Linked DNA regions of Homo sapiens. The protein of the gene in region 1 interacts with the protein of each later gene in a pairwise test. Each region holds a gene or a part of one and is shown in the gene's direction. Other genes may lie near its edges.

Region 1 (7,898 bases):
TCTTAAACAAAGACACACATACACTCAAGATAAAGATATTTGACCATTTTAAAATTAAAAGCTTTTGTTCATCAAAACCATTTTATTTTATTTATTTTGAGATGGAGTCTTGCTCTGTCGCCCAGGCTGGAGTGCAGTGGAGCGATGTTGGCTCACTGCAACCTCTGCCTCCCAGGTTCAAGCGATTCTCCTACCTCAGCCACCCAAGTAGCTGGGATTACAGGCACATGCCACCACTCCTGGCTCATTTTTGTAGAGACGAGGTTTCACCATATTGGCCAGGCTGGTCTCGAACTCCTGACCTCAGGTGATCCACCTGCCTCAGCCTCCCAAACTGCTGGGATTACAGGTGTGAGCCACCATGCCTGGCATCAAAAGCATTTTAAAAAGAGAGGGACAAGTTACAAACTAGGAGAAGATATTTGTAATATACATATATAACAAAGAATTAGCATCAAAAATTCCTAAAAAATTGAGAAAAGCACATATAACATAATAGAAAAATAGGCAAAAGATATCAATGGGCATGCTTCAGAAGAGGAAACTTATGGTTAACAGAATATGAGGAGATGTTCAACTTTATTGATTAAGTAAAAATTAAGACCACATTGAGCTAATACTTTGATTGTCAGACTACAAAACTAAGTACTGAAGAAAATGTGGATCCGCTCACAGAGTCTCTTAAACGATGCTGATGGGAGTACAAATTTGTGTATTCACTTTGGGAAAAAGGTTTGATGTTACCCACCAAAATGGAGTGTTCATATACCCTGTTACCTGACAATTTCACTTTTAGGTATAGATCCAAATAGATCAAAGAAAAGCTCTTGCACTCCCTGGTGGTCTAATGGCTGAGGGGTGAAAGGCTCTTCCACATCTATCACAGGAGACACAAGAATGTTCATAGCTGGCTGGGCGTGGTGGCTCACACCTGTAATCCCAGCACTTTGGGAGGCCAAGGCGGGTGGATCACCTGAGGTCAGGAGTTCAAGACCACCCTGGGCAACATGGTGAAACCTCGTCTTTACTAAAAATACAAAAATTAGCCAGGAGTGGTGGCGGGCACCTGTAGTCTCAGCTACTCAGGAGGCTGAGGCAGGAGAATCGCTTGAATGCGGGAGGCGGAGGTTGCAGTGAGCCGAGATTGCACCACTGCACTCTAGATGGATGACAGAGCAAGACTCCATCTCAAAAACAAAAAAAAAAATAAAAATAAAGAAAGGTTAAAAAAAAAAAAAAGAATGTTCATAGCAGCATTATTCACAGTATAAAAACCTGGAAGCAACCCAAATATCCATTAATGAGAAATCAGACAAATGTAGTATATTTATACACTGGAATATCATATAATAGTCTGAATGAATGATAGCCATAAAATATGGCTGAATCTTATGTGTGTTAATTAAGTGAAAAGCAGTCTCAAAAGATTACAAGGACATAATTTTTTCCTTTGTAATAGACTTTTGAGAGCAGTATTAGGTTTATAGAAAAATTGTGCATGAAGTACAGAGTTCCCATGTGCCCTCTCTCCCATTACAAACATAGTTTCCCCTGTTATTACTGTTTTATATTAGTGTTAACAAGTATATCAATTCATAATTGATATATAAACTTCAGTTAATCACAATGTATCAATATTGGTTCATCAATTCCAACAAATGTACAACTGAGGAACAACTATTGATACATTATGATTAACTGAAGTCCATAGTTTACATTAGGACTCACTTTGTGTGGCACAGTTCTATGGGTTTTGACAAATGCATAAGGTCATGTATCCACTATGAGAGTATCATACTGAATAATTTCACTACCAGTAAAAATGACCTGTGTTCCACCTATTCATCCCTCTCTCCTTCCCTGATGCCCAGGGAACCACTGAGTTTTGCCCTTTCCAGAGTGTCATATAGTTAAAGTTGTAGCGTTTACAGCCTTTTCCACTGGGCTTCTCTTGGTGCTGTACATTTAACATTCCTCCATGTCTTTTTGTAGCTTGAGAGCTGTATTAGTCTGTTTTCACACTGCTGATAAAGACATACCCCAGACTGGGAAGAAAAAGAGGTTTAATTGGACTTAGAGTTCCACATGGCTGGGAAGGCCTCAGAATCATGGTGGCAGCAAGAGAAAATGAGGATGATGCAAAAGCGGAAACCCCTGATAAAACCATCAGATCTCGTGAGACTTATTCACTACCACAAGAACAGTCTGGGGGAAACTGCCCCCAGGATTCAAATTATCTCCCACCAGGTCCCTCCCACAACACGTGGGAATTATGGGAGTACAATTCAAGATCAGATTGGGTGGGGATACAGAGCCAAACCATATCAATAGCTCTTTTTAAAAAAATCACTGAACAATATTTCTTTGCATGGATGTACCACCTTGTACGACAGTTTATCCATTCACTTATATCAAGGACATCTTAGTTGCTTCCAATTTGGGATGATTATGAACAAAGCTGCTGTAAACATTTGTGTGCAGGTTTTTATGTAAACATGTTTTCAGCTCATTTGGGTAAGTACCTAGGCATTATGTTTAGTTTTGTAAGGAACTGACAAGCTGTCCTCCAAAGGGGCTATAACATTTTGCAGTCCTACCAGCAAAGAATGATAGTTCCTGTTGCTTTTCATACTCACCAGCACTTGGTGGTGTTAGTGTTTTGGATTTTAACCTTAATAATTTCACTGCCAGTAAACATGCCCATTTTAACCATTCTAGTTTGTAGTGGGCATATTCTTTTTACTAAGTTAAAAAAAAACTCAAATATACATGTATATACATATGATTTTTAGGACTATGTACATGTGGAATAAAACCTTGTAGAAGGAAAGCAATAAATAGTAAAGACAGGATTCAGAAAGATGGTTACCCCAAGCGAAGGCAGGGGTGTGTGTTATTGTGTGTAGGAGGTATAGCATAGATACAGATATAAACTCGTGTCATTATAACTTTTTAGTGTGGTGGGTTTGTGGCTATAATCAAAACTAAAGTAATAAAGGTGGGTGCGGTAAACTGAATAATGGTCCACCAAAGATTTCTATGTCCTAATTCCCAGAATTTGGGAATGTTATGCTAAAAGGGACTTTGCAGATGTGATTAAGAATCTTGAGATAATCTTCGCCCAAAGTAATCACAAAAGGTTCTCGTAAATGAAAAGGGGTGGCAGGAGAATCACGATGTACGTACAGAGGCAGAGAAGAAAGAAGATACTATGCTTCTTTTCTTGAAGATGGAGGATGGGGCCAAGAGCCAAGGAATGCAGGCAGCCTCTAGAAGCTGGAAAAGGCAAGGAACCAGCCCTGCCGACACCTTGATTTTAGCCCAGTGTAACTGATTTTGGACTTCTGACTTCCAGAATTGTAAGAAAATAAATTCGTGTTGTTTTAAGTATCTAAATTTGCAGTAATTTGTTACAGCATCAACAGGAAACTATCACAGCGGGCCAGGCATGGGTTAATGAATTGGATTATAATTAAATCCAGTTCTACACCTAGGTCCAATTAAAAACATAGACAAAACCTTTGAGTGGCTCCTCACTGCCTGGAAGAGAAAGCTCAAATTCCTCAGCATGAAATAGATTCTTGACAACACGGTTCTACAAGGTCCTCTCTAGCTTTAGTTCCCTTCCCCCCGCTCCCGCCCGCATCCCCAGCCCATACATTTTAGCCATGGGTCCTGGCGTCTGAGCCTTTTGTTGTTCCTACGGACTCTTATGGGGCTCAACTCCTTTGCCGTGTCTCTATGAAGTCTTTCAGGTTGAAATTTCCTCCCCTGAAAATGGACAACATAAGGGCTTGCTGCATGGTTGATTCTGCTTTCAAGATTAATGTTCAGTGGCACGCATACGCACCGCCACTTGCAGAGGTCGACATGCACTTAGTACATGTCGGCAGAAGCAACTCTTAAGCCATTACTAACCGGGGCAGTTAAGTTCTGGCAATGGGCTGAAAGATCTTTCTTCATCGCCACTCTTCACTAAGCTACAAGACCAAGTACTTTCTCCTGAAGGTACTTAGAGGAGGAAAAAAGCACACCAGGAACTGTTGTGGGGGGTGAGAAGACAAATTCTACAGGGATGCAGAGCTAGTATGAACATGGCTTCCCCTATCTTCATGCAAAACTGCGTTTCTAGCCCACATGACTGATGTCTGTAAACGCAACTTTATGTTTGTGCACGTCTCTGCCCAAGGATTTTTTTTTCTTTTAACTCCAAGAATACGGGGGGAGTTGGGCAAGTCATTATAATAGGGCTCCTCTTCTTACCCCACTATCCGATGAGACATTTGATAGGGAAACCTCTGAAACTTGTAAAGCAATTTACAAGCAGGCCACCTACTTGTATTTAACAAATAGGCTAGAAATACCTATTTGTGGGAAATCGAGTCCCCAAAACACCCCAACCCCTCCGGGTCCCCGCCAGCACAGCCTCTCTTCTGACTGTCGCGCGAAGCGGCGGTTGACTAACGCGAGCCAGCCGTTCTGATGAACACAGGAGGGCCGGACGGCCCTGCTGGCTCGGACACCACGCGGAGGGAGAGTGCTGCCTGAGCCACAGTTGAAGAAACCGCTCTCGGGCTGGACGAAGGCGGAGCAGCAGCTCAGACTGGGCCAACAGAAGAGCCTTACAATGCCTGGAGCAGTCCGAGGACAGCCCCCGGCGCGAGGAACTCTGGGACTTGTAGTTCGCTTTCCCAGACAGCGCTTTTCCCCACTTGGTCTCCCCGCCTTTCAATGTCGCTTTTATTCTTCCCTTTACCTCCCAGCCCGCCGACTTCCTGGTCGTCGCACGTCCTCACGTATGACTACACTACCCAGAAGTCTCCTCTTCACGTCCCAGCGCGGGTGGGCGCCGGCGGCTCCTCTTAACCACAGGTTCCAGAAGTCCTCTGCAGAAGTGCTTCCCTCTCTCATTTCCAGGACCACAATTCCCAGAGACTTCGGCTTCACGACGTTTCTCTTTTTGCCCGATCTCTCCCGGAGCTGGCTGGGCTTCGGCCGGCCAGAGGCCCACAGCGACGACGTGATCCGTCGTGAGCGGGTCCCAGGGTTTCCTCGGCGGCCCTTTTTTCTCTCCCCTCGGTCGTCCCCCTTGCAGGCTGTCGCGGCTGGCCTGAGCGGTGACCTGGCGGGTCGCGCCTGCGCTCTGCCCTGTTTCCTGCCTGGCTGGTGGCGGCGGCCATTTTGTTCATCCTCCTCCTCCTCCTGCTCCTCCTGGTTGGAGCGCAGTGTCCGGAGCGGGCTGGGGGGAGAGAGCCCGAGAGCAGGGTTCGGTGCCTTTTCCTCTGTCCCCAGCCGGTGCCCAGAGCCCCCCTCCCCTTCCTCCCCACCCCCTCCCCTCCCCAACCCTGCCCTCCCCCTTGTCCCGGGATCGCTCCGTCGCACCCACCATGATGGAAGACGACGGGCAGCCCCGGACTCTGTGAGTACCCGAGACGAGGGGTGCCAGGCGCCAAGAGGCCCGGGCACCGCGGGACGCTAAGGGAGGGAGCAGGAGAGACTGGGCCGAAGCCGGGACTCTAGGCGGCTCCCTGACCAGGGCGGCGTGGACGCGAAGTGCATTCCTCATCTGTCCCCTTTTCCTTGGGAAGGAAATCCTCCCTTCCCCCAAACAGTCACTTCCTGGGGTCTGGGGCTTGTCTCGACCTTTTTCTCTGGCGTCCTTCTTTGCATGCCCTCCCTAGGCCGGGTTTCTGCACGGCTGAGGCTGTCAGGCCCAGGAGAACTCCTGCACCCCCTCCGCGTTGGACGCCCTGGGCTGGGCCTGGAGCTGCCGGCGCCCACGGGGGAAGGGCCTGGCGGGGGTAGGATTGGGGGTGGGCCCGGGGGTGGGCCCCGCGGGCCCTGAGGAATTAGCACTCACCCCTTCCACGTCCTCAGCTCGAGTCGCTCCCAGCTCTTCTCCCCAGCTAAGCTCTCGGAGGAAGCAGGACACTCTTTCACCACTCAAGCCCCTTCTCTCTTTATGCCCCACGTGCCCCCGCCCACGCTGTCAGAAACACCCGCCTAGCGCCCGCTACTTTTGAAGTACATAAGGGATACCTTTTGCTGCCCGAGCATCTTTCCCTTCTTGGATAAAGAAGTTTACTTTGAGCGCTCCCTACGCTAAACTGACAACCAGTTGTTAAACTCCTTTTGCTCTCTAGGTGTTGCCTCTTCCTAATCTGTTTGTGCGTCGAAAGCTTCAGAGTTGGCTAAAATTATGTCTTCATCCGCTATTTGATGTGTGTCTTCTGAACGCTTTTTCTCCTGTCTTGCTGTTGCTTTTTACCTGAAGCTCAATCTAATGAATGAATTCCATCTTCCAACCACTTAATTCTGGTTTCCTTCCTTTCCAATGAAGAGTGATGACTCAGCATTTGCATTCCTTTCTGAATAGTGTGGCACTCCTTTTCTCTGCATCTTTTTTTTTTTTTTTAAGTCTGAATACTTTTTAATTAAATGTTTAAATTGGGCACCCTAATTTCCCGGCCTCTCCAGGTCTAGCACTCCTACCTTGAGTACCAAGGAGTCAGATCGCTGCTTTGTTTCTCTTGCCTCTCCTGGTATTGATAGGATCATAGTCCACTTGGCTCTGCTCTCTGATGGGGAAATTGCTTTTTAGGGAATAGATGAAGGTGGAGGGGCACTCGAGAAGTTTGACTAGCTTCACATCTCTTCACTCCTACCAAAGAAAGGATGCTCAGTAAAGAAGATAGATGTTCAGTATTGATAGAGATTTTTTTGGTGTGGCCTTGTACAGGAATAAATGTGTTCTCTAACGTCTCACTGAAGTATCCGTCCCGTTTTGAGAATCTGAGGCCTACTGAAGCACATCCAATGCTTCAATGAAACGCCTGCTTAATAGAACGTCTTTGTGTTTTGTGTTGTCTTCCATTTCTGCCTTCTCTCCCTAGAAGAAAGAATTGGGACACACTTGAAATTTGTCCTTCAGGCCGGGCGCAGTGGCTCACGCCTGTAATCCCAGCACTTTGGGAGGCCGAGGTGGGCGGATCACGAGGTCAAGAGATCGAGACCTTCCTGGCCAACACGGTGAAACTCCGTCTCTACAAAAAACACAAAAATTAGCTGGGCGTGGTGGCGCGCGCCTGTAGTCCCTGCTACTTGGGAGGCTGAGGCAGGAGAATCACTTGAACCCAGGAGGCAGAGGTTGCAGTGAGCCGAGATTGCACCACTGCACTCCAGACTGGTGACAGAGCGAGAGTTCGTCTAAACAATTAAAAAAAAAATTTTATCCTTCAACATCTGTTGAAGCCAAGACTTGGTGTTGAGTTACAATGTGTACTTTGATATAAGCATCTGGGAAAGCTAGGCTTAAAGACTAGCTAACATGTATTTAACAAAGATAAAAGTTACATTGTATCTAAAAATCTGAAGTATCATCACACACTGAATGATTGATAAATACTCATGGCAGGGGTCTCATTTACTGTATCTGTTCCTTACCAAGAGGAATCTCTGGTTTTGTAGTGCTAAAGAATGTGCTTTTTTGATGTCTTTTATTTATCTTTGCATCTGCCTTGCCTTCATCCCTATCAGAGTTTCTCCAGGGGAATAATAAGCTAACTTCTTTGTCACTTATTTCCTTCCTCTACCTTCTCTAATCTCTTGTTCTTTCTTTGAAACAGTTAAGTTGTCTATGTTTACAGTTCTCTAAAACTGTGACATGTTCATATGAATAAATAAACATCTTAACTCTGTTGTTTTGTATGTCAGTACGTGTTTACTATTCTGTCTTCCTTTTTCCTTCTCCCACCCTTTTCCATAGGGCCTTTTTTTTTTTTTAAGAGAAGGACTACTACATCTTCCTAGGTCTTACCCCCACAGCACTTAGTTCACTGCCTGGAACATAAGAGGTACTCAGAATTTCTACAGTGATTATACTTCTTTCATTAAATTAG
Region 2 (7,143 bases), on another chromosome or scaffold:
TTTACTCCATCTCTTGTCTTGCTATCTTTAGTTTTAGCCTTGTCAATTCCCCAGTGTAAAGATTGCTTCTGTGTGGCATATAGTATGTTTAAAATGGGCAATATAATGACGAGGAAGTTTGATTGTTTTTTATCAGACCAGTACAAACATGCAGGAAAAAGGGCTATTCCTTAGTGTGGAATAAGCGGCTTCCTGTAATTGTTAGCCTTGTTATAAACTTAATTTGACTTAAGAAAAATATTGGTTTCTGAAGTCCATCACATTTTTTTTTCTGGATGATTTAATTGTGAAATTTGGCATCTTGTGCTTTACCCCTTTGTGGTTTGTCATTGTCCAAAACAAATTGATCATGACTTTTGTTTCTGGTTAGGCATTACTTTTTTTTTTTTGCCTATAATGCTTGGCTGAAAAATTACTTTTAAATTTAGATAAAATTTAGTAAAAATTTTACTTTAGTGATTGGTTTGATGAAGTTAACATCGTGCTTAGAGTAGATGTATTTTCTGATAATTAGGAATTTTAAATGAGATTTTAAATTTTTTATTTTAAAATATTTTTCAAAGAATAAGCTTTTTAAAAATATGCTTGTCAGCCTAAGAATTTCCATTTGGCTAGTTACAAATTTGAGGATTAAGTGTGCTGGTTTTCCCAGTTGATGAAGACTTGGATGTTTTAGAATGAGTATTTTAATTCCTTGCCAAGTTAACCTTTAGTCTGTATCTTGACTGTGGACAGTCCTTTTGTTTTACTGCTTGTTTTTGTTTTGTTTTGTTTTTTGCTGTTGCTGGTGGTGGGGGTGTGTGTGCCAGCTCTTCCACTGAAGTATCTTCAACACGGTTGTTTTTTAAAGTTGTGAATACATTTTAGGTTGGGCCCATCATAAAATATAAAGGACATAAACTTGAGTTTGAAACCTTTTATTGAAGATAGAGATGATTATAGGATTACACATAAAACCTAGGTCTTAAACTGCTCTACCTTTAGAGAGACGTTTTCAACTGAACCCTTAGAGCAGTTAATATATGGTTTTTAAAAAAACAGACTTTTCTTGTCATGAGAATGAAACAACAGTAGTTGAATGCAAATTGTTATAATAAAGTTTTGTAATTTAGAATCGAGAAGGTGAAGAGTACGGTCTATTAGACTTAACAATCCTGTATTAGGGGAAAATGGAGAACTAGTATTTTAAAAGCTGATTTTGAGTTTTCAATTTTTTAGGTGGAGGTGGGCTTAAAGCTGCTGATAGGGAAATAAAAAATGTGTAATGAGGAAGAACAGTCAATCTTTTTATCGTGGATATCAGAAAAATTAGTGTGTGGCTCAGAAAAAGAGAGCAGATGGATTAGAATGCCGTATTACTGATTTGAAAATATATTTTCATTTTCTGATGGTCTTTTTGTGTTTACAGTAAACTTTCTGTCTGACCTCAGTTTAGTTTATACCCTGCCTGCTCCCTCTCCTTTAAATATATGAGTAAAAATATTTCGTTAAAACTTGCTTAAATAGTTGCTATTTTTTCATGTTAATGTTTATTTTCACTTCTTCTGCCTCTGTTATTGGATGTATCATAAGGTTTTCTTACCATAATTTTTTTTTTTCCTGAGAATTCATTTACAAAAGCCTTGACTTAAGAATTATATGGTGGTTGGTATTGAGAGGACTCTTGCTATACAGATTTCTTACAAAAAGGTTTTCTTTTTGTCTGAAGAAGCAATTACTGTTGTCAGTAATCATCATCTGTAACAAACAGATTTTAAGGTGAAATAATCTGTTCTTTAGAAACTAAGATATTGCTTTTGTACACAGTCCTTGAATTAGTTGTAGCAAGAAGGAAGCTACTATTTATAATCACTTCTTTCCATTATCTTTTCTCACCCAGGAGGTGTCAGCAGCTATATATTGGCAGTCACGGAAAAGATCAGTTGTATCATTATGGGGCATTTATTAAACATTCATTCTGTACTTTTAAAGCTAAATTCCCCTGTAGGTGGAACGTGATTCCTTTGGAAACTGTATCCAGTTTACATGTTTTGTAGTAAAAGTTGTATCCGACTGTAACACAGTTGAGTTGATAGAAATAGGTCTCTTTGCTAGTCACATTTACGAGTGTATTTTGGGATGAACACTTTTTCTTAAATGACTGAGAATGTCAAGTTAAATCAAGTTAATTTGACTTCTTAAATGCTTTATGCACATTATATTTCTGTTAATGCTTCACTAGTCACTGTCGCTGTCCTGGAGCTGATTGAAATTGGTCAGTTTCCCATAAGAGCAAATGGTTTTTGGTTTCCTTTTTCAGGGAAATAGATTTCTGTGATGAAAGAAGTGAAGTATAATAAAACCCTCATGCTTTGACCTGGCCTTCACCGAAGCATGATTCAGATTCTTTTTTTGAGGCCAATATACTTAGACATGTAAGGGCTTTTCTTTTCTTTTCTTTTTTTTTTTTTTTTTTGGTGGTTTTTTTCTTTCCTTTTTTTTTTTTATGGTTTGGTTTGGTTTTTATATCAAGGGAATTACACCAGTGTGATCATAGGAGCAACTTTTTATAAACTGGAACTACAGTTTAATTTACTTGAGAAATTCGGTGTAGCTAATACATTTGTTTGATTTATTTGTTTGATGTTGCAGTTGTAAGCAAAACTTGCCCTTCTCTGTTGGAGATGGAAAATGCTGTGACATTGTTGGTTTTTGTTTGTTGATAACTTAAAAGGCAGCCCACTGAGCAACTTTCTGCTATTGGTATGTCAGCTGTTATGAACATATCCAAGGTTCTATTTTAAGGCCAAGGGATGGGGAGTGGTGAGTGGGCCTATGTTAGGAGGTCACACAGATATATACCAGCTTTTTATTTACATGATCAACGGGACTTCATTTTTTTCTCCAGTCCCTCCTGTGTTTGACATTAAGACAGCTTAATGTGAATTTTAAGTGCAATAATGTGTTGTTTACCCTTAATGATAACTTTTAGGGAATATTTATACCCCTTTAAAAAAGTTTTGGGCCCACAATAGCTAGATTATTTCGTGTTTTACAGTTATATTTTTTACTTAACAGAAAATCACAACTAACAATAAACTTTTATGGTGAATATAGTTTGTTATCTTAGTGGGACTGTTAAGAAATTTGTTTATAACCCCAGTCTGTGTTAGGTACTACCTTCTATGGAGTGATCATTATAGTTAGCATTGGAATATTATTACCTGTCTGCCCTCTTAAAATTACTTTCTTGAAGGTGCCTACCTTAGAGCCTGGCATACACTTCTCAGATGTTTGTTGAATTAAACATGTTGACATCTTACCTCCTTTTTTGATTTCTAGTTTCTCAAAGATAGGGTATGTGCACATGGTTTAAAAAAAAATGAAAATCTGAAAGTGACATTAGAAATATTGTCTAATAATTTTAAGAAATGAAGCAGTTGTGTGATTGTTGATAGTTTTGTGCCCTTAGAGGAAAAGGCACTTATATGTTTTCTTAAAAACAACTTAAAAACATGTCATGTTATTTGTAGTACTTGCTGCCAAGGTGCTTAATTTTACTTTACTGTCATTGTTGGGAAGGAGATTTAGGAAGATAAAATTGCTTTACTTAAATAGTATAGTTTCTTGTCAGTCCTTATACCAAAGGGTATCAATTCATAAGCAGAGAAAAACTACCAGTGCTCATCTCAGCTCTTGGAAAATTTTGGCATTTATGGAATTATATAGGTAAACTCCCCACCCCGTTAGTTACCCTTTTAAAAGTCCCCACATATATAGTTCTTGTACTCCATGCAGGGCACAATAGATAGGAATGATTTCTTGTCCCTAAGTGCTGCTTTGGTGTGTTCAGGATAACGACTGTATTTGATTGAGTGATTTTAGTTTAAAAGAAAGCTGAGTATAATCATATGTGGCTGATTGTCATTTAACACAAATAGCTATGTTTTTAAACACAGGTGTGTCTTTTAATTTTAAACAGTGCCATTACTTAGAAAACTGATAAATTGAAGTTTTCACTTAGCTGAAACTAAGCTCTTTTATTTCTTTTTTCTTTTTTTTTTTTCAGTTGGAGTCTCGCTCTGTCACCCAGGCTGGAATGCAGTGGCGTGCTCTCGGCTCACTGCAACCTCTGCCTCCTGGGTTCAAACAGTTCTCCTCCCTCAGCCTCCCGAGTAGCTGGGATTACAGGCGCCCGCCACCACGCCCGGCTAATTTTTGTATTTTTAGTAGAGACGGGGTTTCACCATGTTGGCCAGGCTGATCTTGAACTCTTGACCCCATGATCTGACCGCCTCGGCTCTTGACCCCATGATCTGACCGCCTCGGCCTCCCAAAGTGCTGGGATTACAGGCGTGAGCCACCAAGCTCTAAACTGTTTATTACTGTGCTTTAGCAGTAACAGTGTTTGAAAATCTGTGATGAATTTTTAAAAAATATATTGCAGAAGTGATTTATCTAGAATTCTTACAATTAGCAAGAAAAGGACTGCACTTAATGTTTTCGTCTTCAGTTTCTTGATGCGGAAACTCTAGTTTGAAAATCCGGCAATCCTATCAAGTCTAACAAAATAAATTATGTTCATAAAGTTGCTTCATGTATTAGTCTAATATTTTTGTAGAACTAAATTTTGAGGCTGGGGAAATGAATCGATTGTAAGATTTATATCACATTATTTATTATAAGCAGAATGTGTCATATTCTGCTTAGCAGATAAGCAGATATTGAAGTATCGGAAAGAACATAATTAGTCGGATGTGGTGGTGTGTGCCTGTAGTCCCAGCTACTTGGGACGCTAAGGAGCGAGGATTGCTTGAGCCCAGGAGGTCAAGGCTGCAGTGTTATGATCATGCTACTGCGCTCCACCTTGGGCAACAGTGAGACCCTGTCTTAAAAAATAAAACATCAAAATGCAGTTACATCCATAAAGTGGCTCCACATAATGGTCACAATGTAAGTAAAGGGCATGTGTGTGCAGGCATTTATATCTGTAAGTGAAGACATGCAGTGAATGTGAGCTGGGCTTTGTGAGTACTGGGGCTGGTTAAGTTCCAGCTGAGAAAGGTTGGCCCCGGGATTGAATAAGTAGCTGGCCTTAAGTAAGCACCTCGCTTTTGCTTTAGTGCAGGAGAGGTCATTGTAGAGACTGGGCCTGATCTCCTGGTCAGTAGCAAATCATTGGGGAGCCCTTGGTTTTTAAGCTGATTTTATAGTTTGAAATATATAGGAAAAAACAAACAAAAAATAATACATTTTAAGAGTAGAATTAGGGAAATGCATAGTAAGAAAACAAACATGCAATTTTAAAATTTGAAACCGAGCCTGGTGAGGTGGCTCATGCCTGTAATCCCAGCACTTTGGGAGGCCGAGGCAGGTGGATCACGAGGTCAAGATTTCGAGACTAGCCTGGCCAATATGGTGAAACCCTGTCTCTGCTAAAAATTAGCCGGGCATGGTAGAGTGTGCCTACAGTGCCAGCTACTTGGGAGGCTGAAGCAGAAGAATCGCTTGAACCTGGTAGGCGGCGGTTGCAGGGAGAGGAGATTGCGCCACTGCACTCCAGCCTGGGTGACAGAGCGAGATTCCATCTCAAAAACAAATAAAATTTGGAACCTTTTTTGTAAACTCTTCAATGTCATAGTTTTACAGGGTCTCAAACTTACTTTGCAGATTATATCAGAGAATTGTGTTTTAGAGCTGCAGGGGACCTGAGAGTTGGGAGTATATGTTCATTTCATAGGTGCAAAGACAAGTGGGCAGCAGAGCTAGAGCAAGACACTCACTTCTGCCCTCTGTTCCATTTTGTGGCGTGCCTCTCCACAAGGGGAACTGGAGGGAAAAACCTGGAATATTTCCATATGCTAAAAATCTGCTGCTGTTGCCTCAAGTTGTGAAGGTAAAGAAGACAAACCAAATGATTTTTTGCTAATTCTGTGATATGCTGGTTTTGAACAAATGATGGTCAGATTCTTAGAACTAGAATTTATTTTTAACGATAACTTTCTAATTAAGAGGCTAAAAGTGAGAAAGCCATTTTTAGAGGATTTCAGCTCATTCACTTCTTTGTAAGCAAAGGCTAGAGCCTCAGTTTTTTGAATAATGTAAAAATTGTTGCTGCTATTATTTTTACTACTCAAGAGGAAACATTTTTGGCTGGGTGATTTAATAGAGAAGTATGCTATTGCTAAGTGATTCAAGTTAGGAATGTATACTTGTATCAGTTTTAGATCAGCCTGGGGTAAACAGCCCAATGATATATCAGGTAGATAACTGAAGAGTGACACCCAGGAGGTGGATGGTTATGAATTGAATGGAAACGGTGCTGCACCAGATAGCCACCAGGTAGCTACTATATCGTATTCCTGATGCCAGCATCTGGGGGATGATTGCTCATTTCAAATAATTCAAACAAATTAAATGTAAGCCACAGTTCTTTGCTATGTTACAGCAATTATATCCCTTTGATACAGTTGTTACATGGCAGGTGAATACATTTTTTTAAGAAAAAAAAATTTCAAACTGGGATCAAAAAAATTACCCTGAAACCGCATCTAATTGTCTATTGTCGCTGATTCCACCGTGGTTGCAGTGATGCCATTATCATGAGAGTATTCAAGTTTTAACTCTGTATGTGTGTGCCTGCACATGCGTGAGCCAGCATAAAGATGAAATGAATTTATGTTTTTGTGCATATGCTAATGAGACCCTGTGATGAAGTGGTAAGCATTCTTGTACTATAGACCTGGGATCTAATCATGACTCCGCAATTAACTGGTTTGGTGATCTTGGGTGAGATAACTAATGTCTCTGAACCTCAAGCTTCTTCATCTGTGAATGAAATTATCAACTGCCCTGCCAACCTCAAATCCAAATACTCTGAAGTTGATGGGTATTCAGAAGAGCCTCTCATACTATAAAGTAGCAGCATCACTGCTTGGTTTTTAATTTTTTTTTTTTTTTTAATTTTGTGTGAGTCTTTCTCTGTTGCCAAAGCACTGGATCTTGGCTCACTGCAACCTCTGTCTCCCAGGTTCAAGTGATTCTCCTGCCTCAGCCTCCCGAGTAGCTGGGATTACAGGCGTGCACCTCCACACCCGGCTAATTGCTGTATTTTAGTAGAGACAGGGTTTCACCATGTTAGCCAGGCTGGTCTCCAACTCCTGA
Region 3 (7,860 bases), on another chromosome or scaffold:
CGGGCTCCAGGATGTCGTAGTGGGGGACAAGGCTCAGCTCTGAGCCCTGCAACCGGTGCTCCTGCTGCAACACTCGTTCTGCCACTTGGAGGAAGGGAAAGGACAGAAAGCCTGTCAGATTTCTGCAGGAGAGGGACGGTCGGCTGGGTCTGCCCAGCCCCACTCACCTTGCCACTGCTGGAAGGAGGCAACAGTGCCCAGGGGCCCGGGTAGGCGTTGCAGGTCCTCCAGGGGCCCCCCACCACTGCGGCGCTCATTCTCCAGGTACAACTCCAGCAACAGCAGGTCCACAGAGGCACCATCCCCCACCACACGCACCGCTCGGGCCTGGGGAACCCGGGCCAGGGACACCAAGGTCCCCTCCAGGCCCAGATTCTGGGCCTGCTCCTCCAGGACACGGACATCTGTGGGGTATGTGCAGGTCAGCTCAGGGAATCCCCCCTAGCCAGCACCTCAACCCCAACCCTGCCTCTCACCTGCCTCAGAAAGGGGCTTGGGCAACTGGACCAGAGCCCGGTCTGGCCGGGGGCTGGCCAAGGCACAGCAAGGCTGTACTGGGAGCCCCGAGGCCCGCAGCAAGGCCTGGACATGCTGCTCCAAGCGCTGGGGCGTGGTGCCAGGGGGCAGTCCTTGGAGCAGCAGGCGTGCAGGGGCTCGTGGTGGAGCTGGCCGCAGGCTCAGCTGGGCACCATGTAGTTCGTGATCTGCCTGGGCCAAGACCCTCTCGGCGTCTGTGGGCAGGGGCGGGGCAGGATGTCAGGCATTAGAATATCAGGGCACCCAGGCTGTCCCTTCAGCCAGCCCTCTCACCTGCAGGCTCTCTGAAGGTGAGGACGCCCCCACAGCCCAGTCTCTGCCAGCTCAACACAGGTCCCCCTCCAGAGCGTCGGCGGTTTTCAAAGTAGAGAGTGAGCAGCTCGTCGGGCACGGCAGGGGGCAGTCCACGGACCTCCACTGCCACCCCTGCCTCTGCCTCCGCCATTGCAACCCTGGGACGGGGCATCAGGTGGGTAGGGAAACAGCCCATTCCACCCCTCCTGCCCCTCCCCAGGCCCCTCCAAGGTGTGTCCTCAATGCTCCCCCATTATGGGTGGCCCCACATACAGCACTTACATTCCCCGTGGCCGCTAGGCAGCCTCAGGCCATGAGCTCAGCCAGGACTCCTGTGCCTGCCCCTCAGCAAGCCTAACCCTGCTGGGAGCAGGAAAACAAAAGTGAAACTGAAAGACGGAAGGAGGGAGGGAGCAGCTGGGCCCTGGGCGCTGAGGCCTGGGTACTGGGGCTCAGATGCTTCCTCTCCTGCTGCAGCCTCAACCCCCAGCTGACCAGGAGGTATTGGCCAGGCTGGACCCCTCAGGACCCTCCAGCCAACCCAGCCCAGCCCACCGGCCCTACCTGGCCCACTCCAGCCCCTGGTTGGCAGGGTAGACAGGAGTGTCCCCTGGTGGCCCTCCACTCCCCTGGCCTCCATGGCCTGAAAATGGCCAATCACCCGCCCCACTAAACCCACCAAGGGGCCTGAGTCACTGCCCCTCACTCAGGATCTCCAAGCCTCTGTGTCCATGACACCCTCTGCACACAAAGTGCTGGGTCTCCAGGCCCGCCCCCGGCCAAGGCTGGCCTTCAACGCCCCCAGCAACCTTCTCAACCCTGCTCCTGGTCCCTCACACCTGCCAGGTGCTGAGCATGGGCGGTTCCCCACCCTTGGTCTCCAAGAATGTGCATTGCAGCACAGCCTTCCTCCCGCCTCAGGTCTTGCCTGCCCATTCCTGCAGCTTTCTGTCCTGCCTGCACCTCCCCATCTCACACCATCATTGGCATCGTCACAAGTAACCTCAGAAGGTGACAAGGTAATGGCTCCACTGCATTCCTTGCTGCCGCTAATCCTCACCACAGAAAGGGAAACGGAGGTGCAGACAGGCCCATAGCAGCACCAGGCCTCAAACCTGGGCGGTGCCTTCAGAGTCCACACTCCCACTCGCCACAGATCTCCCACATCACCCAAGCTCCGTTTGCTTCCAGCCTTTCAAAGAGCTGTGGCCACTACCACTCTCCATCTCCTACTTCCCACTCACCCCTCAGCCCACCAAAACCCAGCCCCACCCCTGCTGTTCCTCCCTCCAGGGAGCTGAGGACCCTGGCCAGCCTGCACTCCTAGCCCTGCACATGCCACACCTCTGCTGCCCCGACCCTGGTCCCAGCCTCCAGCATCTCTCGCTAGGTAGCTAGGCTAACCTCTTAACTAGTCTCTGTCTGCCACTCCCATGGTGGGTCCTCAACAGAGGTGTCAGGGTGAGCCTTGTAAAATGACACCAGCAGCTGCTACAGCTCCCAGCATCAGCAACAGTAGAAACCAAAGTCCTGGGGGCCGGGCGCAGTGGCTCATGCCTGTAATCCCAGCACTTTGGGAGACTGAGGCAGGTGGATCACGAGGTCAGGAGTTTGAGATCAGCCTGGCCAACATGGTAAAACCCTGTCTCTACTAAAAATATAAAAATTAGCCGGGCATGGTGGCAGGTGCCTATAATCTCAGCTACTCAGGAGGCTGAGTCAGGAGAATAGCTTGAACCTGGGAGGTGGAGGTTGCAGTGAGCTGAGATCGTGCCACTGCACTCCAACCAAGGTGATAGAGTGAGACTCTGTCTAAAAAAAAAACAAAAACCCAAAGTCCTTTTGAGGACCTGCCCCCTGCCCAGCTGCACCTGACCAGACCTCAGTCCCTTCTCTGGCCCCATGCCCCCTGCACACCCTGATGCTCAGAGGGCTCCAGGCTCTCAGCTCTTCCTGCAGAGCTACAGGCCACTCCTGCCTCAGTAGCCTGGGACTGGCCCTTCCCTCTGCTTGGCCCTACCTTCCCCACAAACCCCCATGGCCACCCCTCTGGCATGATCTCCCTTACTCTGCCTTTTTTTTTTTTTTTTCTGAGACGGAGTTTCGCCCTTTCACCCAGGCTGGAGTGAAGTGCCGTGATCTCGGCTCACTGCAACGTCCACCCACTGGGTTCAAGGGATTCTCCTGCCTAAGCCTCCCAAGTAGCTGGGATTACAGGCACGCACCACCATGCCCAGCTAATTTTTGTATTTTTAGCAGAGACAGGGTTTCACCCTATTGGGCAGACTGGTCTCAAACTCCTGACCTCAGATGATCCACCTGCCTCAGCCTCCCAAAGTGCTGGGATTACTGGTGCCAGCCACCATACCCAGCTATTTTATTTTTATTTACTTATTTATTTATTTTTTGAGACAGAGTCACACTCTGTTACGCAGGCTGGAGTGCGGTGGCACGATCTCAGCTCACTGTAACCTCTGCCTCCCAGGTTCAAGCCATTCTCCTGCCTCAGCCCCCCCAATAGCTGGGATTACAGGTGCACACCACCACGCCCAGCTAATTTTTTTTTGTATTTTTAGTAGAGACGGGGTTTCACCGTGTTAGCCAGGATGGTCTCCATCTCCTGACCTTGTGATCCACCCGCCTCGGCCTCCCAAAGTGCTGGGATTACAGGCGTAAGCCACCGCGCCCAGCAAGCATTTTATTTTTCTTAAAGGTCTCTCAAATTTTGTGAGCTTCTGCTTCTACAAAGGTAGAAGTTACCTTCTACAAGGGTAAATCCATCCCTGCTTTTTCCACGTTTTCTCTAATGGAACTCATCACAGGTTATCCATTACGCCGACCCTGGCTGCAGAGGGCCTGCCACAGGCACCACTCACACCACAAGCAGACTGGTACAGTTTCGGGAATTTCTGTGGACTGGTTGTCCAGCTGGGGGTAACTTGAAACCAGCCCCGGTGGAGTATTCACACCACGCGCATGTGCAAAACACGCACCCCAGGCTTCCCCTCACTAGGTCCGGCTGCTAAACACTGCGCCAGCGCACCATAGGTGCAGGACTCAGAGCGGCCTGGGAGAGGCCGGCCCTCCAAGGGCGGGAGGGCAGGTGGGGTCTGGGCCCCGGGTGGGAAGGCTGGCAGCAGGATGTACCCTGCCTGTGTCAGTCACTGCTCCCCCAAGAGGACTTGGGAGCTAAGCAGGGAGGTGGCCTGGCCTCCAGTCCTGCTGCATCCCCAAGCCTCAGCCCCTCGCAGCTTGTGAGGACGTTAGGCAGACAAGCGAGCGTTCAGGGTCTCTAGTGTGAAAACAAGACATCGTATTTGTTAGTACAAAGGGTGACTGTGGTCAAGAATAATTGTACATTTTAAAACAACTCCAAGAGTATAACTGGATTGTTTGTAACACGAAGGACAAAATGCCTGAGCTGATGGATACCCCATTTACCTTGATGTGATTATTATCCATGGCATGCCTGTATCAAAACATCCCATGTAGCCCGTAAATATACACCTACTATGTATCCACAAGAATTAAAAAAATAAAAAAGGGTCTCTAGTAGCAGGCCTGGCAGAGTTTGGGCTGACAGAGCAAATGGGGCAATTAAACCACGAGGCCTCGATTTGGGAACTAAAGGATTAGGCTTCTTGATTTGGGAGAGATCTGGATGAAAAGAAGTGAACGTCGGGTTTTAAGGCCGAGAACGGACGGTCAGTCCCGGGCAGCTTCAGCAAATCCCGCATTTAGGAATAAATTTCTTAACTACCGAACGGCCAGTCAAATTGGCCAGACCAGACTTCTGCCTCCAGGGGTCTTCAGCGCCCACCGCCCGACCCCACCCCTCGGCAGACAGTGAGAGGCGGGCCTCTGGCCGGAGCGAAGAGGAACACGCAAGGCGGCGCAGCGGGAGGGGTCCGCGGAAGCCCCGCCCACCTGCCCCTCCCACCCCGAAGCTCGCCCGGCCCCGCCCCCTGCCCCGCCCCGTCACAAGGCCCCGCTGCGTCTTCCGAGCCGCAGGCGCAGGCCCAGCTGAGCGGCCGCCGAGCGGGTGCGGGTGCGGGCGCATCGGCCATCACCGCGCGGCCGCGCAGCGGACACCGTGCGTACCGGCCTGCGGCGCCCGGCCACCGGTGAGTCCCCGGCCCGAGCCCAGGAGCGCCTCTGACCCGCTGCGCCGCGCGGCCTGCCGCCCCCGCCCCCGCCCCCACGCGGATCTTGCGCATCCGAGCGTGGCCGCCTCGGGTCAGTAAGTTGGTCCGGCCGGGGCGCGCGGCAGCTCGCGGCCAGAGGTGGCGGCGGTGGTGGGGGCGGGGAGCCGCGGCGGCCTGGAGCCGGAGGGAGGGGGCGGCGCGCTGCGGCGACTGCTGGACCCGTGACCCTGTGCGCCCCCGGCCCGCGGAGGGCCCATCCGCTCTCGGTGCCAGTGCCACGGCCGCAGCCCCTACCCGCCTCGCCCCACGCCCGCTTTGTTCCCCGCACGCCCCGTGGTCGCTTCCATCCCCCACACACCCCCGCACCCCGCTGTTCCCGGCGTACCCCACTGGCAGGCACCGGCAGCCGATCCAGGCCCGATCCCCCCACCCCGGAGCCAGGGGCCGTTGGGCCCTGTTGTTGGGCTCGCGGGGGTGGGGGGGCTCGGGCCTTTGTTGGTCACAGATGGCCCGGGGATTTCCTGGGATAGAAATAGCCGCCGGCTCCGGCCCCTTAAAGCTGCTTAAGGGGCGGGATGCGGAGGGGAGGGTCCGGGCACACCCCACACGTCCCCGGCCGAGACCCCAGCCTCCGCGCTGAGCTCCCACCCGGGAGACGCCGGCAGCGGCGCAGGCCTCCGGTTGCTTGTGAGAAACGACCCAAGCCCCAAATCCCGAGGCTGGCGGTCGTCCCCTCGCCCGGCCCCTCCCCCACCCTAAAGGCGGCCTAGAGCCCTGGGAAGGCCCCACGGCGCCGCCCGTCCGGTCCTCACGCGCTTCTCCGGGCCCAGGCTCCGGGGCTCCCCACAGCCCGGGGCAAAGGTCACGGTCTTCCCTTGCTTCCCCCTGGGTTCCCAGAAGCAGGTGGAGTTGCGCAGGGCTGGGTCCCGACGCTGTCGTCAAGCCAACTGTTCCACTGTTCCTTGTCTGTCTTCTCTAGGGGCGGACCGCGGAACCCGAGGCCATGTCCCATGAAAAGAGTTTTTTGGTGTCTGGGGACAACTATCCTCCCCCCAACCCTGGATATCCGGGGGGGCCCCAGCCACCCATGCCCCCCTATGCTCAGCCTCCCTACCCTGGGGCCCCTTACCCACAGCCCCCTTTCCAGCCCTCCCCCTACGGTCAGCCAGGGTACCCCCATGGCCCCAGCCCCTACCCCCAAGGGGGCTACCCACAGGGTCCCTACCCCCAAGGGGGCTACCCACAGGGCCCCTACCCACAAGAGGGCTACCCACAGGGCCCCTACCCCCAAGGGGGCTACCCCCAGGGGCCATATCCCCAGAGCCCCTTCCCCCCCAACCCCTATGGACAGCCACAGGTCTTCCCAGGACAAGACCCTGACTGTGAGTCTCAGGAAGGGAGGGGTGGGGTGGCCGGGAGGGCAGGGGGAGGTGCTTGTGAGTGGCGCTGACCCAGCCTGTCTGCTTCTCAGCACCCCAGCATGGAAACTACCAGGAGGAGGGTCCCCCATCCTACTATGACAACCAGGACTTCCCTGCCACCAACTGGGATGACAAGAGCATCCGACAGGCCTTCATCCGCAAGGTGGGTAGGGGCATCTCCAAGGCGGTGGGGGCTGTGGCTCCCAGCGGATGACTCTGAGCGGCTCCTTCCCCAGGTGTTCCTAGTGCTGACCTTGCAGCTGTCGGTGACCCTGTCCACGGTGTCTGTGTTCACTTTTGTTGCGGAGGTGAAGGGCTTTGTCCGGGAGAATGTCTGGACCTACTATGTCTCCTATGCTGTCTTCTTCATCTCTCTCATCGTCCTCAGCTGTTGTGGGGACTTCCGGCGAAAGCACCCCTGGAACCTTGTTGCACTGGTAACCCCCAAACCTGAGCCTCTGTGCCTGGGTCCGGCCATGCAGTCCCACACGCCCACTCTTCCGGGCCTGGTCACCGTGGTTCTCCTTGTGCTCATGAGGCAGGGGCCGGCAGGGGTGGCATGGGGGCACACACCCAAGGTCAGCCTGTGTCTCCCAACTGCAGTCGGTCCTGACCGCCAGCCTGTCGTACATGGTGGGGATGATCGCCAGCTTCTACAACACCGAGGCAGTCATCATGGCCGTGGGCATCACCACAGCCGTCTGCTTCACCGTCGTCATCTTCTCCATGCAGGTGAGGGGCCTCCCGTGGCTGGGCTGTGGCCGCAGGGGCTGAGCAGCTTTCCCAGGCCCAGCCCCATGGCCCGTTCCTCTCCCACCTGCAGACCCGCTACGACTTCACCTCATGCATGGGCGTGCTCCTGGTGAGCATGGTGGTGCTCTTCATCTTCGCCATTCTCTGCATCTTCATCCGGAACCGCATCCTGGAGATCGTGTACGCCTCACTGGGCGCTCTGCTCTTCACCTGCGTGAGTGAGGGGTGACCTTGGCCGGGGGCGGGATGCTGGGCAGGCAGGCTTGTCCCTCAACACCACTGTGCTGTCACCTCCAGTTCCTCGCAGTGGACACCCAGCTGCTACTGGGGAACAAGCAGCTGTCCCTGAGCCCAGAAGAGTATGTGTTTGCTGCGCTGAACCTGTACACAGACATCATCAACATCTTCCTGTACATCCTCACCATCATTGGCCGCGCCAAGGAGTAGCCGAGCTCCAGCTCGCTGTGCCCGCTCAGGTGGCACGGCTGGCCTGGACCCTGCCCCTGGCACGGCAGTGCCAGCTGTACTTCCCCTCTCTCTTGTCCCCAGGCACAGCCTAGGGAAAAGGATGCCTCTCTCCAACCCTCCTGTATGTACACTGCAGATACTTCCATTTGGACCCGCTGTGGCCACAGCATGGCCCCTTTAGTCCTCCCGCCCCCGCCAAGGGGCACCAAGGCCACGTTTCCGTGCCACCTCCTGTCTACTCA
Region 4 (7,143 bases), on another chromosome or scaffold:
TGTAGAACTCATCTATGTATCTTACTGCTATATCCCTATGATATTCACTACAGCATTTCATAAGGGTGTATAAAGATTCTCATAGATTTTTCAGAGAGCTCCTTTAATTCCATTACTGATTAAAGGTGTTAGGTGATGCATCTGGTTAGGACGTACACAGTGCTTTCTGTTAGTGGGATTATTAGAGAATGTTCTTTCAATGTGCATTTGTTTAAATATTAACCCAATAAACCTTGAAGGCAATAAAATGTGGCTGCCTAATAACCTGTGCAAGTTTTAAAACTCAGAATTTCAAACTGCAAATATTTTAGAAGATATTTATTTTTTCACTTAGTTTCAATCTGGATGCCCAGATGAAGAGAATGGAAACTCTAATTGTTACTATTTTGAAAAGATCCAGCCTACCCTTGTCAATTACTGAATAGACCTTTCACAGGACTGGAAAAGTGTTTTGGGCTCCACCTGCTGGACCCACGGAGCTTTTGTGTTCAGTATGTGACTGTACTTTAGAAAACAAATTAAATCAGTGGAATTGGGAACAAATTGTCCTTCTCAACAGGGCTGGTAGACAAAGACATGTAAAAATGAATCACAATGATTTTAGCAGAGCGGCTTTTGGTTCATTTCAAACCAGGAATGAAGTCAGCTGCACACAAAGCACCTTGGTAGGAGCCTGATGGCTGGTCCACACCTATGATGCTATCAGACAGAAGTCATTCCATTGATGGAGGAAGGCTTGCTCAGAATCCGTGGGAACATCTTAGTGATTTATTTTGCGCATTTTATGAACTAAAGTTAGAATGTTGGCTAATATCCAAAGTAGGAGGAAACAATTAACAATCTGGTGATTTATGCTATCTACCTTCAAGCTGGCCTGGTCACTGGTCAGTGAAACAGTATTTCCTAAGTATGTCTGACTTCCACAATACTTGAATTTCATGTCAGGGGCCCTTCATATAACATCACTAATGATCAGCGTGATGATCATTTACATATCCACTTTGGAATTGGAGCCTAAAAATAAATAACTTACGATTCTACTCATAATTATTTCCTGCTAATATTTATGAGCAGAGAAGAATTATATAAGCAACATGCATATGTTATTTATGCTATTTTATGTTATCTATATGCAGGGCATAATTAAGAATACTCTTCAAATTCTAAAGAAATATTTTTTCATACAGTAAAATCTTGATCCACCAGAATTCTCAGGGGATAGAGAATCCTAGTTACTTGAGATTTCAGGATAATTTAGCATTAAAGAATTTTTAAAATAAACTATTTCCCTCCATTTTTCTTTCTCTATATCTCTTGCCGTATTTCTCTCCTTTTGTCTTTTTTTTCTTTTCTGTGCTGTCAAAAATAGTATAGTGACCTTAAAAATGAAAATTTTGGTGTCTTAGATATTGTTCTTCTGATTTATGATTATGTTATCTTTGTAGAGCAGGAGAGAAGGAGTGGGAAACAGGAGTGTTCAGATTCCCCCCACCCCACCCCACCCCACCCCCTTAGAGAGAGGAGGAACAAGTTTGTCGTCATTTTCTCTGATTCTTTTTGTACAGCTATGACCTGGTAGCTTGATATAGGTGAAATTATCCCTCCACACACACAAAAAAAAACCTATAGCATTGTCAGAATTGTCATACAAGTAGGTGATTGAAGATATAGAGAGAGGTAGATAGATTATAGGTGATTGACAGATTAAATAGATAGATTATAGGTAGGTAAGCAGGTATATAGATAGGTAGGTAACTAGATTAGATAGATGATTAATTAATTGATAGATTTTAGATAGATCAGTAGATGATAGATGATGGATGGCTGGATGGATAGATGATAGATGGATGAATGAATGGCTGGCTGGATGGACGGATAGATAGATGGTAGGTAGGTAGATAGATGATAGATAATATTAGGTTGGTGCAAAAGTAATTGCAGTTTTTACCATTAAAAATAATGATAGATTAACAGATAATAGATGGATGGATGGATGGATGGATGGATGGATAGATGGATGGGTGGATGGATAGATAGATGGATAATAGATAATAGAGGGATAGATTGATAGATGATAGATAATAGATGATGGATGAATGAACAGGTGGATAGATGATTGGATAGATTGATTGATGGTAGATGATAGATGAAGGAATGGATGCATGGATAAATAGATAGATGATAGATATATGGATGGATGGATAGACAGACAGACAGATCGATAGACAGCTGCATAATATGCTACCCAGGGACAATGGAGGCCTTGTTGCTTTTCCTTTGTTATTTTAGCTGAACTGCAGATTTCGTATTATTTTCTCAATATAGATTTTCACCCTAGAAAAGGCGGTAAAACAAAACTCAAATGACTGTGTCAGAGATTGTGGTTACCTGGGCTCCGCATAATCAATCTTTTCTTGTCAGTGGTACATGAGCCACCATTGAAAGCGAGGCAGCCTCCGCTCCTCCCGCGGTGGCCGGGGCCGCAGGGGCGCCTGGGCTCAGGCTTGCCTCTGCAGCGCGGCTCTTCTTCCCTGTCTTAGGTATGCAGGGAGTTCCAGCGAGGAAACTGTGCCCGGGGAGAGACCGACTGCCGCTTTGCACACCCCGCAGACAGCACCATGATCGACACAAGTGACAACACCGTAACCGTTTGTATGGATTACATAAAGGGGCGTTGCATGAGGGAGAAATGCAAATATTTTCACCCTCCTGCACACTTGCAGGCCAAAATCAAAGCTGCGCAGCACCAAGCCAACCAAGCTGCGGTGGCCGCCCAGGCAGCCGCGGCCGCGGCCACAGTCATGGTAAGTGCGGCCGCCCGCCGCCCCTGCACCCCGGCGCCTCTGCGGAGGCCGCTCCGGGCTGGGACTTGGATGTTCTTCCAAACACTCGGGAAACATGGAAGGCTGCTATTCCTGCTGCTCCGCTGCCTAAGTTTTGCTGTTGTTTTCCCCCTTTTTGTTTTGTTTTGTTTTCCCCTCCTGCCCCCCTTCAGCACAATAAGTAAATCCCTCAGGTGCAGGGAAAGTCCTGGGGTCCCTGAGCTCCGTTCCCCCTCCTAGGGTGGCGGAGATTGAGTGTGCTCACTTAGGGTCTTTTTAAGAGAGGCTCAGGGGCCTTGTAATGAACATGAAGGTGGGCACCGCTTCGGAGAGGGGAAAGAAAGGTGCATTTCTGCACCTGAGCACGAGGAGGCACCCAGCTCCTTGGAGCAGCCACGGAGGACATCTGTGGCCTAAGAGAAGCCCAGAGAGTGATTTGGCTTTTCGCTACTCCCATTTTCTCCTCTTCTTTCACTTATTACAAGGGCAATGCTGGTCAGATTCCCCATCTCAATGAGGTTTTATGCAGAATAGCAATGCATGAAACAGATGAAAGTGGAGCCATCCTGGCTGGTGCAGAAAGAAAAAAAGACCTGTGACCTAGGCTTGCTTCCCTGAGTCACCCTACTGTCATTAGAGACCAGCAGTACATCATCATTATCATCGCCTGGGAGCCTGCTCAGAATCTCGGAGAGCCTAACTGTCCCTTAGAGACCAGATGCACCATTATTAGGATCACCTAGAAGCCTGTGGAGCCTCCAGAATCCTCAGCCTCACCCCAGACCTCAGGGAATCAGAATTTAAGTTGTAAAACATCTCCCAGGTGTTTTGTATGCACATTAACATTTGAGAAGCACCTGCCTAGACATTGCTTATCAAACTTGGCTACATTTTGGAACAACCTGAAGGGTCTGACCTGACATCTGTCCCTTTCCCTGAAGTTTCTTATTTTCTTATTTAGTTGGTCTGGTGTGGTCTGGGCAGTGGGATTTTTTTTTTTTTTTTTTTTTTAAGACAAGGTCTCTGTCACCCAGGCTGGAGTGCAGTGGAATGATCATGGGTCACTGTAGCTTTAAACTCCTGGGCTCAAGTGATCCTCCCACCTCAGCCTCCTGAGTAGCTGGGAACATGCCCATCTAAGTTCTAATTTTTTTTGTAGAGACAGGGTCTCACCATGTTGTCCAGGCTAGTCTCAAAACTCCTGGGATCAAGCAATTCTCACACCTTTACCTCCCAATGTGTTGGGATTACAGGTGCGAGCTACCATACCTGGCGACAGTGGCAGTTTTTAAAAGCTCCCAGGTGATTCCAATGCATCGCAAAGCTTGAGAACTTCTGCATTAGGTTGCAGAAGTTTCTAATTAATTTGTTTTCATGTGAGCTCTCTGGCTTATCAGAAGTCTATGTTAATATGTGATAGGCACTATGCATTCATTCTTTCAAAAAATTTTATGAGACCATGCATCAGGCACTTGCTGGGTAGAATAAATAAATCAGTCAGGTTTCCTTGCCCTCAAGGAGTTTGGAGTTAGTAACTGAGAGCAATAACATGCTCCTCAGTGACATGATAGAAATAGTTAATCGGGTCCAGAGGGCATGAAGGACTCAGTGGCCAGTCCTCCCTCAAGAAGGAGAGCTATGACTGCAGAGATGAAAAGTACAGTTTGAAAACACTTTGTTCTAGTTAGCAGCCATCACCTCAGCCATCACCTCATACACTGATTACTGATTAAAATGGAAGGGTAGCTGTCACACAAACAAGTTCACAATTACTCAACATTGTTTGCGCAAATGTTTATTAAGGCATGGACCTGTGATCAGTGATAGGGATACAGCGAGAAAGGCACCATCTGCCCTGAGGTAATCACCACCAGGTGCGGAGTGTGTGGTTCTAGAGACCTTTCCAATTTGAGCTGCTTATTTCCATACACCTTGAGCACTGGCCTCGTCATCTAAATCACTGTTTTTGTTTTTGTTTAATCTCTGAGTCCTTTTCTTGTCCCTTTAGTGTCCTTTCCTCTCGTCCTTCTCATTCATATGTTATTGGACCTAATATTTTTTTATTTTGCTGAGTGTGAATTCCTATATATGTGGAGATGTATGTATCCACACAAGAGGGTCAATAAAATAGAGAAATTCTCCCTTTTTTTCTTCTAGTAAAAGAGTAGTTTCCGAAACTCATTATAATTGGGAATGGGAGGAGGAGAGTAAACTGATCACTTAAGGCTGATAAAAAAGGAATTCTTTCAGAGCACAAATGAGATCTTTTACACATTTTGCCAATGCGACATCCATTCTACTATCAACCTGGTGAGGATCTCATCCCATAGGAAGCAAATTTTTTTTTCATTGTAATCATTATTTTAGGCCAGCTCCAACTTATCCTAATTGGTGTGTTGATTGATGGGCACTAAGAACACATTTTTCCACAAAATTTGTTTATTTATTTGTTTTTTGAGACAGAGTCTTGCTCTGTCAGTCACCCAGGTTGGAGTGCAGTGGTGCGATCTTGGCTCACTGGAGCCTCCGCCTCCCAGGTTCAAGTGATTCTTATGCGCCAGCCTCCCGAGGAGCTGGGACCACAGGTGCATGCCACCATGTCTAGCTAATTTTATATTTTTAGTAGAGATGGACTCAGGAACGCCTGGGTTCAGAAACTTCAGAACCAACAGGTCACTCTCTTCTTTCCCCTGCCTGCTTCTCTTACTATGGCCACACCATTCTCTAAGGTCAGCTTCTCTACAAGACCCAGGACCAAGGCTTTGGACCTCTATAGGGATGTATTCTTACATCTTTTGACAAGAGAGAGAATGGTGTCTTTTATACCAGCTCTAATTAGGTATTGGGGCAGGGGAAGAAGTTAAAGGTCATTTTGGTGGCTGTCCCTGTGGTCAGTGACAGGATGCTGTGATTGACTCAGCCTGGGTCCCAGTGGCTATCCTTGGTCACTGAGGTATGGAATGAGGCCCTGATAATGGAAATATTAGTCCTTCAAGTAAAAGTTCAGTTCCAGACCACTGCAATGAAGCGAGTATCACAATAGAACAAATCACATGAATTTTTTGGTTTCCCAGTGCATATAAAAGTTATGTTTACACTACACTGTGGTCTATTAAATGTGCAAGAACATTATGTCTGAAGAATATATACACACCTTAATTTTAAAATGTTGCTTAAAAGATGCTAACCAATAGTCAGAGCTTTTAGTGAGTCGTATCTTTTTGCTGGTGGAAGGTCTTGCCTCGATGTTGATGGCTGGTGACTGATTAGGGTGGTGACTGGTGAAAGTTGTGATGGCTGTGGTAATTTCTTAAAAATACAATTTCTTAAAACACAATGAACATTGCCACATTGATTGACTCTTCCTTTTATGAAAGATTTCTCTGTAGCCTGCAATGTTATTTGATAGCATTTTGCTCAGAGTAGAACTTCTTTCAAAATGGGAGACAGTCCTCTAAAACCCTGCTGCTACTTTATCAACTAAGTTTATATAGTTTGCTAAATCCTTTGGTATCATTTCAACAATGTTCAGAGCATCTTAGCCAAGAGTAGAACCCATCTCAAGAAACTACTTTCTTTGCTGCTCCATAAAGCGACTCCTCAACCATTAAAGTTTTATCATGAAATTGCAGCAATTCAGTCACATCTTCAGGCTCGACTTCTATTAAGAATTCTAGTTCTCTTGCTATTTCCATTACATCTGGAGTTACTTACTTTTTCCATTTAAGTCTTGAACCCCTCAAAGTCATCCATGAGGATTGGAATTAACTTCTTCCAAACTCCTGTTCATGTTGATATTTTGATCTTCCATGAATCATGAATATTCTTAATGGCATCTAGAATGGTGAATCCTTTACAGGTTTTCAATTTACTTTGCCCAGCTTCATCAGAGGAATCACTATCTGTGGCAGCTACAGCCTTACAAAATGTATTTCTCGATTAATAAGACTTGATAGTTGAAATAACTCCTTGATCCATGGGCTGCAGAACAGCTGTTGTGTTAGCATGCATGAAAACAACATTAATCTCCTTGTACATCTCCACTGGAGCCCTTGGGTGATCAGGTGCATTGTCAATGAGCAGTAATATTTTGAAACAAATCTTTTTTTCTGAGCAGTAGGTCTCAACTGTGGGCTTAAAACATTCAGTAAACCATGTTGTAAATACATATACTGTCATCCAGGCTTTGTTGTTTCATTTCTAGAGCATAGGCAGAGTAGATTTAGCATAATTCATAAGGGCCCTAGAATTTTCAGAATGGTAAATGAGCATTGGCTTCAATTTAAATTCACCAGCTGCATTAGCTTCTAGCAAGAGTCAG

The links.
Region 2: the proteins of TIAL1 (region 1) and QKI interact in binary tests that used the Homo sapiens proteins (3 or more experiments, as listed by UniProt).
Region 3: the proteins of TIAL1 (region 1) and GRINA interact in binary tests that used the Homo sapiens proteins (3 or more experiments, as listed by UniProt).
Region 4: the proteins of TIAL1 (region 1) and MBNL2 interact in binary tests that used the Homo sapiens proteins (3 or more experiments, as listed by UniProt).

Annotation. Positions count from the first base shown.
Region 1 is NC_000010.11:119,593,955-119,601,852, reverse strand, and holds the start of TIAL1 (nucleolysin TIAR), read left to right. Parts: upstream 1-4,888; 5' UTR 4,889-5,387; coding exon 5,388-5,419; intron 5,420-5,860; exon of another isoform or gene 5,861-6,289; intron 6,290-7,763; exon of another isoform or gene 7,764-7,853; intron 7,854-7,898. UniProt on the Homo sapiens protein: RNA-binding protein involved in alternative pre-RNA splicing and in cytoplasmic stress granules formation. Shows a preference for uridine-rich RNAs.
Region 2 is NC_000006.12:163,417,718-163,424,860, forward strand, and holds part of QKI (KH domain-containing RNA-binding protein QKI), read left to right. Parts: intron 1-7,143. UniProt on the Homo sapiens protein: RNA reader protein, which recognizes and binds specific RNAs, thereby regulating RNA metabolic processes, such as pre-mRNA splicing, circular RNA (circRNA) formation, mRNA export, mRNA stability and/or translation.
Region 3 is NC_000008.11:143,985,245-143,993,104, forward strand, and holds the start of GRINA (protein lifeguard 1), read left to right. Parts: upstream 1-4,811; 5' UTR 4,812-4,955; exon of another isoform or gene 4,956-5,067; intron 5,068-5,955; 5' UTR 5,956-5,979; coding exon 5,980-6,358; intron 6,359-6,447; coding exon 6,448-6,560; intron 6,561-6,633; coding exon 6,634-6,834; intron 6,835-7,000; coding exon 7,001-7,129; intron 7,130-7,220; coding exon 7,221-7,364; intron 7,365-7,447; coding exon 7,448-7,597; 3' UTR 7,598-7,860. Other genes in the region: protein mono-ADP-ribosyltransferase PARP10, read right to left, coding at 1-84, 168-404, 477-731, 811-1,027. UniProt on the Homo sapiens protein: Potential apoptotic regulator.
Region 4 is NC_000013.11:97,344,264-97,351,406, forward strand, and holds part of MBNL2 (muscleblind-like protein 2), read left to right. Parts: intron 1-2,540; coding exon 2,541-2,804; intron 2,805-7,143. UniProt on the Homo sapiens protein: Mediates pre-mRNA alternative splicing regulation. Acts either as activator or repressor of splicing on specific pre-mRNA targets. Inhibits cardiac troponin-T (TNNT2) pre-mRNA exon inclusion but induces insulin receptor (IR) pre-mRNA exon inclusion in muscle.